2 linked regions of the Homo sapiens genome follow. The protein of the gene in region 2 interacts with the protein of the main gene of each other region in a pairwise test. Each region holds a gene or a part of one and is shown on either strand. Other genes may lie near its edges. The genes, in order: BHMT and ALG9.

The links.
Region 1: the proteins of ALG9 (region 2) and BHMT interact in a two-hybrid assay, tested with the Homo sapiens proteins (one large-scale study listed by BioGRID and IntAct).

What each region holds. Positions count from the first base shown.
Region 1 is NC_000005.10:79,110,193-79,114,115, forward strand, and holds the start of BHMT (betaine--homocysteine S-methyltransferase 1), read left to right. Parts: upstream 1-1,616; 5' UTR 1,617-1,693; coding exon 1,694-1,726; intron 1,727-3,923.
Region 2 is NC_000011.10:111,837,026-111,840,848, reverse strand, and holds part of ALG9 (alpha-1,2-mannosyltransferase ALG9), read left to right. Parts: intron 1-39; coding exon 40-194; intron 195-2,449; coding exon 2,450-2,600; intron 2,601-3,233; coding exon 3,234-3,381; intron 3,382-3,823. UniProt on the Homo sapiens protein: Mannosyltransferase that operates in the biosynthetic pathway of dolichol-linked oligosaccharides, the glycan precursors employed in protein asparagine (N)-glycosylation.

The sequences.
Region 1 (3,923 bases), on a different chromosome or scaffold from region 2:
TCCAATGCCTTCAAGGTGTTTTTTTTTTTTAATCTAGGTACTGTGAAGAATGACTTTACCTCATGCCTCATTCTTGCTGACCCCAGATCACAGTTGGGGGTGGAGGAGCCAATGAAATAATAGATCACTTGAATAACAGTATATCCTTTCACCTTTTCATTTCTTTTTCCATTTTAAACTTGACATACTTAGAAGCAAAAGGACATTTTTACTTTCTCAGTTGTATTTCAAACACATGTCACTTTAGCCGTTAAATTTGTATTAATTCATCAGGTGTTGCAGTAACTTTCTTCTCTGCATGTGTTGAAATGGAGGTTGTTTGTCCACATACAGAATTTTTTTACATGCTTTTATTTGGGTAAAATTTTCTGAACTGTGTTTCAGATATTTCATTGTTCTGTAGGCTATTTACTGTCATGCTGTACATTTTTTTTTCTTTTGAGACAGAGTTTCACTCTTTTTGCCCAGGCTGGAGTGCAATGGCACAATCTCGGCTCACTGCAACCTCTGCCCCCAGGGTTCAAGCGATTCTCCTGCCTCAGCCTCCCGAGTAGCTGGGATTACAGGCGCCTGCCACCATGCCCGGCTAATTTTTGTATTTTTAGCAGAGACGGGGGTTTCACCATGTTGGCCAGGCTGGTCTCGAACTCCTGACTTCAGGTGATCCACCCGCCTCACCCTCCCAAAGTGCTAGGATTACTGGCATGAGCCACCGTGCAGGCCATGCTGTACATTTTTTAAAGTAATGTTTTTATTATTTTAAAATCAATGTATTCTCATTATAAAAATATTTTGGAAAATACAGTGAAACATGAAGAATAAAATAAAACAAGCCTTAATTCCGCCATCAATAGGTAACTACTGTTAACATCTCTATTCCCTCCAGTTCTTCTAATGTCTATGTTTTTATATCGTTTTCATGCTGAATTTTGAAGTCTTCAAAGTACATTTCTGCTTCCATTTATAAATGTTAAAAGTCTGTCCTTGTTAAATATTACAAACATATTCTTATTAGAAACTACTGTGTTATTAGAAACTGCAAGGCATGTTTGGGTATAGGGGTAGAAGGTCATTTTGAACATACCCGCCAATTCAGGGTTAGTATTGGACTCCTCTACTAAAGCCGCATTTGTGTCCCGTTATACTGGATGTATATCACACAGGAGATCACACTCCAGGCTGAAGATCTTCCAGGACTTCATCCCCTGATTCCATAATCTTGACGCCTTGGCCTTTGACAAATATCTGAGCATCGAATGGACTTCTCAGAGGCCTCTCTGGCAGCCTAAGTGGGCCATGGTGCATGATCCCAGGTGAGCGAGAGGACGGTCAGGGTCGGGGCAAAAGTGCAAGAGGCAAAAGGGACGCTAGGCAGGTTTGAAATCTGAGCGAGTGGCAACCTCGCTTTTTCTTATCTTACTTTTCGGTGGTTCCACCCATTTGGGTGAACAATCTGGATTACCTCCTTGGCAGGCCAGGTTCCCAACAGGAGGCGGGCCTGATGAAGGGCTGGTGGGCGTGTTCCCGCCCAAGGTCCGTGTTGGCCCGCGCGGTGGCTGGGAGGCCCTCCCCACGCCCAACTGCGGGTATAAAGAGGCAGGCTGCGGACTCGGAGCAGCTCGGGGCTGCGCAGCGGGAAGGCTCGCCTAGTCGGTCCGCATCCGTGTCGACCACCTGTCTGGACACCACGAAGATGCCACCCGTTGGGGGCAAAAAGGCCAAGAAGGTGAGTCTCCAGGGGACCCGAGGGCGCTCTCCTTCCCCTCCCACCTGCTCTGTATCCCAGCCTCTGGGAGCGCAGAGGGGCCCTCGGACCCTGCCTGGTACCCATCATCCTCCTACTCCCTCCCCTCCCTCAGCCTCAGACCAGAATGTGCTTCCAGAACTTCTCCAGCAGGACCCCAAGGCGCCTCTGAGCCTCCCCACTCCTGCCCCACGTTCAGAGCGCGCCCCCAGAGCGCCTCTGTCCCCTCCAGCCCCAGCCCAGCTTGGACCAGAGTGCGCCCCAGATCTATGTGATCCTTGCCTCTCAGACCCAAAGGCACCCTCTGAGCCCTCCCTGACGGCTGGGTGTCCCCAGAACTCCGAGCCTTCCAATATCTTCTGAATCTGGCACCCCAAGACCAGAAAACTCCCTAGAGATACTGCTCCTAGCCCCGCAGGCGCGATATCCCGTCCCCACGGAGCCCCTCCGCATCTGTGTCCGAGGCCGCCGCGAGCGCCCTCTGCACCCGGCGCGCCCAGAACAGGGAGGAGTGCACGGCGCTGGCTCCGACATTTCCCGCCTGGATCTGCACCGCGGGTGTCGGGGCCGCCTCCCCGCCGGGTTCTCGCTGCACCCAAGGCCCAGGCGCTGGTTGGGTGATTGCAGATTTTCACAGGCAATTTGATGTCCGTGATGACAGAAAAATGTCATCCGAAATGTCAGCCTCGAAAACATGGTTTAAGAAAAAATGGGCAGAGTGGCTGTAAGATACTGAGGAAGGGCTGTTGATGAAATTGTAAAACCCAATTCCAGCTCCAGATGAACAAGTCCATCTCTTGGCTATCCCAGTGGCTTGTTGGGAGGGGTATTTTCAGTCCAGACGGTAGGCCTTCCTCTAATTTGGGGAACGGATGGATAGATGGACTGACTGCCGTGGAATGAGACTGGACAGGTGGGAAGAGAGAGAGAAGGATGGAGGGAGGAGAGAATAAACTTGACCTTTTGGTCAAATGCCCAGTCCCAGGCCTGGCACGACAGAGGCCCCCGGAAAATGGTAGGGAGGCAGATGGGGCCAGGCCAACTGTATCCTCTGGGCTGTAAGGACAGTGAGAAAGGTCCAGCTCTCATCCCAGTGCCTGCCCTGCTGGAGAACCAGCTGAGGTGTGCCCAGTTTCTAAAGGGATGGCCTCCCAAATCAAAAAGACCTCTACACAAGGAAGAAGGTCAATTCGGTTACAGATTCTAAATGCAGCATCGTGGATGCATGTTGATGGCATGAGTGGGTGTTGAGATGGCAAAGGACTATGGACTATCACCAGTCAAAGGAGGGTGAGAATTTCGCCAGTCCCTAAATGTACTAAATGAATAGTCCACAGAGACTGGGAAGGATGATTCCTATAGATATAGATATTTTTTGTTTGTCCCCATTCTCATAGCCACGTAAGTCTAACTTATTCCCCAAACTCAAACTCAGAAAATCTAACATTTTAAAGAATTATCTTTGTAGAATTATCTAAGCAACAGATGAATGTAAGATGGAAAAAACAGTTTCCTAGTAACTTGTTTCCGTGCATATGTCAGTGTTAAAACAATATATGGACAATAACATGTCTACACATTTGAGTTTAAAATTAAAATAAATGTTACAAAGTTTGCACATGTTCATTATAAACAATGAGGGAAAGCACAAAGAACAGTGCCTGTTAAATTCTGGTGTATATTCTGCTAGTTTGTTGTTGAGGCAAATATGCACTTCTTAGACAAAAATGGGCTGATATTACATATACTGTTTTGTAATACTTTTTCACAAAATGGTATATTTTTTTCATAGCACATTCCACCTTTTAAAAAGTCTGTTTAGCTTGGGAACAGAAAATCCTGAAGTCTAGATAATTTTAAAATGCAATAGAATGTAAGAGATCATATTTCCAGAGGTAACCACTCAACAAGTGCATGAGCCACATAGTAATTGAATCGCCACTACCCACCCTGCCACCCAGCATCAGATCCTTAGCTATGCTGCACATTAAAATGCTGTGGTACTAAAATTTGAAAACACACACGTTCAATGGGAGCTGCTAACTGCCCAAATGTCATGAATTATTTTATCCAAATAAAAGTTAGTAGCAAGTCATATCTCATTTAAGTGACCCTTGTTATGTTTTTTATGTAACTGTGCTGGCAGTAGTATATATATATATATATTTATATATATGTA
Region 2 (3,823 bases):
TAATATAATGAAAGATGGGTATTTTTCTGTGTCTTGCAGTTCAGAATTTAGGCCACCCGTATTGGCTTACCTTGGCTCCAATGTATATTTGGTTTATAATTTTCTTCATCCAGCCTCACAAAGAGGAGAGATTTCTTTTCCCTGTGTATCCACTTATATGTCTCTGTGGCGCTGTGGCTCTCTCTGCACTTCAGGTGAGTTTCAGGGAGAAGTGTATCTGCCTCATTCTTTTTTACTTATTAAATAATTGCTCACAAACTTAAGTGCAAATTACAGAATGCTTCCACCTAAGATATTTTATCCATAACATTAAACCTGATATAGATCATATTATTAAACCTTCTTATATTGATTGCTTAGCTGTTTACCATACTTGTATTTGCTGATTACATGTTTGCAGTGTTAATTTGTGTGTTACTTTGCCTCTGTTACCAACAGGAATCCAATTGCAGAATTCCATTCTGTGGCAGAAGTAATGGAATGTCTGCTCTTTGAACTGCTAGATCATAACAAAACTTGCTCAAGAGTTTGGGATCACAGCAGGCAGTTCACAGTATGGGGCACTTTGTAATCCTGGTTGAAAACCTGCCCAGGTCAATTCTCTGGCAGAGCTCATCTTAACTCTGTTTGAATATCTCTGTACTTACGGCTTCAGTAGCCTCAGAACCCTGTATTGCCCTCTGCTACCATTTGCAGTTGGCAGAAAAAAAATAATTAGGATGATAGGTTTTTTTCTTAACAGGTTTTTTGAGATATAATTCACAAACCATACAGTTTACCTATTTAAAGGGTATGATTCAGTGGTTTTTAGTCTATTCACAGATGTGTGCAGTTGTCACCACAGTCAGTTTTAGATCAAAAACCCTGTACCCTTTAGCTATTGTTCCCCCATTCCCTTTCTCATCTCTCACCAGCCCTAAGTAACCATTAATCTACTTTCTGTTCTTATAGATTTGCCTATTCTGAACATTTCCTATACATGGAAACATATGATATGTGGTCTTTTGTGACTGGCTTTTCTTAACATAATGTTTTCAAGGTTCATCAATATTAGGTGATAGTTTTAAAAAATAATTTTAATTATAAAAGTAATTGAACTTTATTGCAGATAATTTAGGAAGTAGTAAAAGAAAAATTAGTCACATTAACCTAACAAAAACTCCTCCCAGCATTTTTGTATATCATATACCAAGGTTTGTTATAGTTGTAATAATAAGTATACATGTAACTTTATATCCCCCCCCCCCTTTTTTTTTTTTTGAGACGGAATCTTGCTCTGTCGCCCAGGCTGGATGGAGTGCAGTGGCGCAATCTCGGCTCACTGCAAGCTCTGCCTCTCGGGTTCACACCATTCTCCTGCCTCAGTCCCCCGGGTAGCTGGGACTACAGGCGCCCGCCACCACGCCCGGCTAATTTTTGTATTTTTAGTAGAGACGGGGTTTTCACTGTGTTAGCCAGGATGGTCTCGATCTCATGACCTTGTGATCCTCCCGTCTCGGCCTCCCAAAGTGCTGGGATTACAGGCGTGAGCCACCGCACCCAGCCACTTTATATCCCTTTTAATTTAATATTGTAACATTCTCTGTGCTTATCATTTTAGTAGCTGTAGAATGTTCTGAGTTGGATATAATATATAGCATTATTATGTAATATGTAATATATTGACTTGACTTTATATAATGTAATTATTGGATATAATTCATGGTAGAATTTAGGTTGCTCATTTATTCAGTATTATGCTAGGATAAATATCTTCATTTAGATATTTAGATTGATTCCTCAGGATAGATTCCAAAAAATATGAAAAAGGTTCAAACAGATTTATGCCATTTGTTATATATTGGAAAATTGCTTTCTGTAAGTAGTTTCTGTCTAGAAGGGAAGGAAGGAAGGGAAGAAGTCTGAGTAGAAGGTACTCAAAGACAGCAGAATTCATGCATGTGTGTTTATATTATATTCATCTAGTTTGTAAAGTCATTCAGCATATAATTAAGAGCATGTTCCTAGTGTTCTATAAGGGGAATTCTTTTTTCTTATTTGGTCATGAGACCTTTTTTTGATACTAATAGCTTTGATAAAAACTTTGATAGTAAAGATTAGTACTCATTATATCAAAAACAAATTGGAATACTTTATATATCAAAACTACCAAAAAAGCATTGCTTAAATATTTAAAAAAAATAACTTATTAGGACTATAAATGCTAGCAAAATATTCAAATAATTTTCCTATGAAGCTAGTGAGATTTTATTGTTGGCAAGCCCTCTGCCTGGCCAAGACTACAGGTAGTCTTAGAGGAGTTGGCTTTTATCTTAGAGTTTGGAGTAGGTACCTCACTGTTGGCAAATGCTCAGATCCCTAATAGAACCTCTTTTTTGGCTTCGCTCTTGATGTTACTGTGATGTCTTGTAATTATGTATATTCTACAAATTATATTTTCTTTTATCAGCACAGTTTTCTGTACTTCCAGAAATGTTACCACTTTGTGTTTCAACGATATCGCCTGGAGCACTATACTGTGACATCGAATTGGCTGGCATTAGGAACTGTCTTCCTGTTTGGGCTCTTGTCATTTTCTCGCTCTGTGGCACTGTTCAGAGGTAGATCTTCTAAGAATATCTTAACCTACACTGACGAGTCACTTGCTCTTAGGTTTTACTTGATTCATGATTATATAATACATATTTGGCTTATACTAAGAAGCCATTTCTAAAAAGAGAACCTGTAGACTTAATATTAATGAGTGGCATATGACTTCTGTATCTTAGGATTGAAGAGAAGATTGAGAATTCCTTTTAGTGTGATTAACTGTACATTTTTTGTCTATTTTTGTTGTTTTTTTCTTTTAATGGATGCTGATAAATTAAGGAAGCCTTAAACTTAAAATGCAAATTTGGGCTAACATTTCATGATTATATTCTTTCTTATAATCATTGTTTGGATCCATAATATTAAAAATATGCTCAAGGAAAATGAAGGTAAAAAGAAGAAGGAGCATAGAGAGGGGCAAGAAAGCCAATTATTTTTTGCAGAATAGGGCCTCTGCTGTAACCGTGTTCCCAGCTAGAGAGACATTTTATACCTGCAGAGCAGGCTTCATGCTGGAATGGCTATGGCCCTTCCTGCCTTTTAAATTTCCTGTGGCTTACAGTGCGACATTAATGAGCAGTATAATTAAAGTGAGAATCTCATCTTACTCATCTCTGGCTCTCACTAACTGTTCTCCCTTCCAGGATATCACGGGCCCCTTGATTTGTATCCAGAATTTTACCGAATTGCTACAGACCCAACCATCCACACTGTCCCAGAAGGCAGACCTGTGAATGTCTGTGTGGGAAAAGAGTGGTATCGATTTCCCAGCAGCTTCCTTCTTCCTGACAAGTAAGTTGTCCTTTAATTCCTAGGGTTTTAAATGAAGGAGTAAATAGAGCAGTTCTATATCAGTGTCTTCTAATTTTTGTTTTCTTTTGGAGTTTTCACAGAGAGTTATTGAATTATCTACCACGTCGGAGAGCTGTGGGGCCTGTGTACTGTGTACCTGCCTCCTGTGTTCATTAGGCTTATTAGGCTGAGGGCTGGGTCTAGGTAGACATTCTGCACTGCCCATAACTGCAGGTGTCTGGGGACTTCTGAAAATGCCCTGGGTCCTAGGCTTTTGCCAGTGGCTCTTCGTGGGGATTCATATTTACATTTCTATAATGATCTGATGTTAATCCTCTTCTAAAAGTGGTCTAGAAACTCCAGCTAGAAGAGAGAAGACATTCTTGACCCAACAGTAGTGAAAGTTCTCCACCATTATGTGGACACTGGGGAAGGCTGTGGT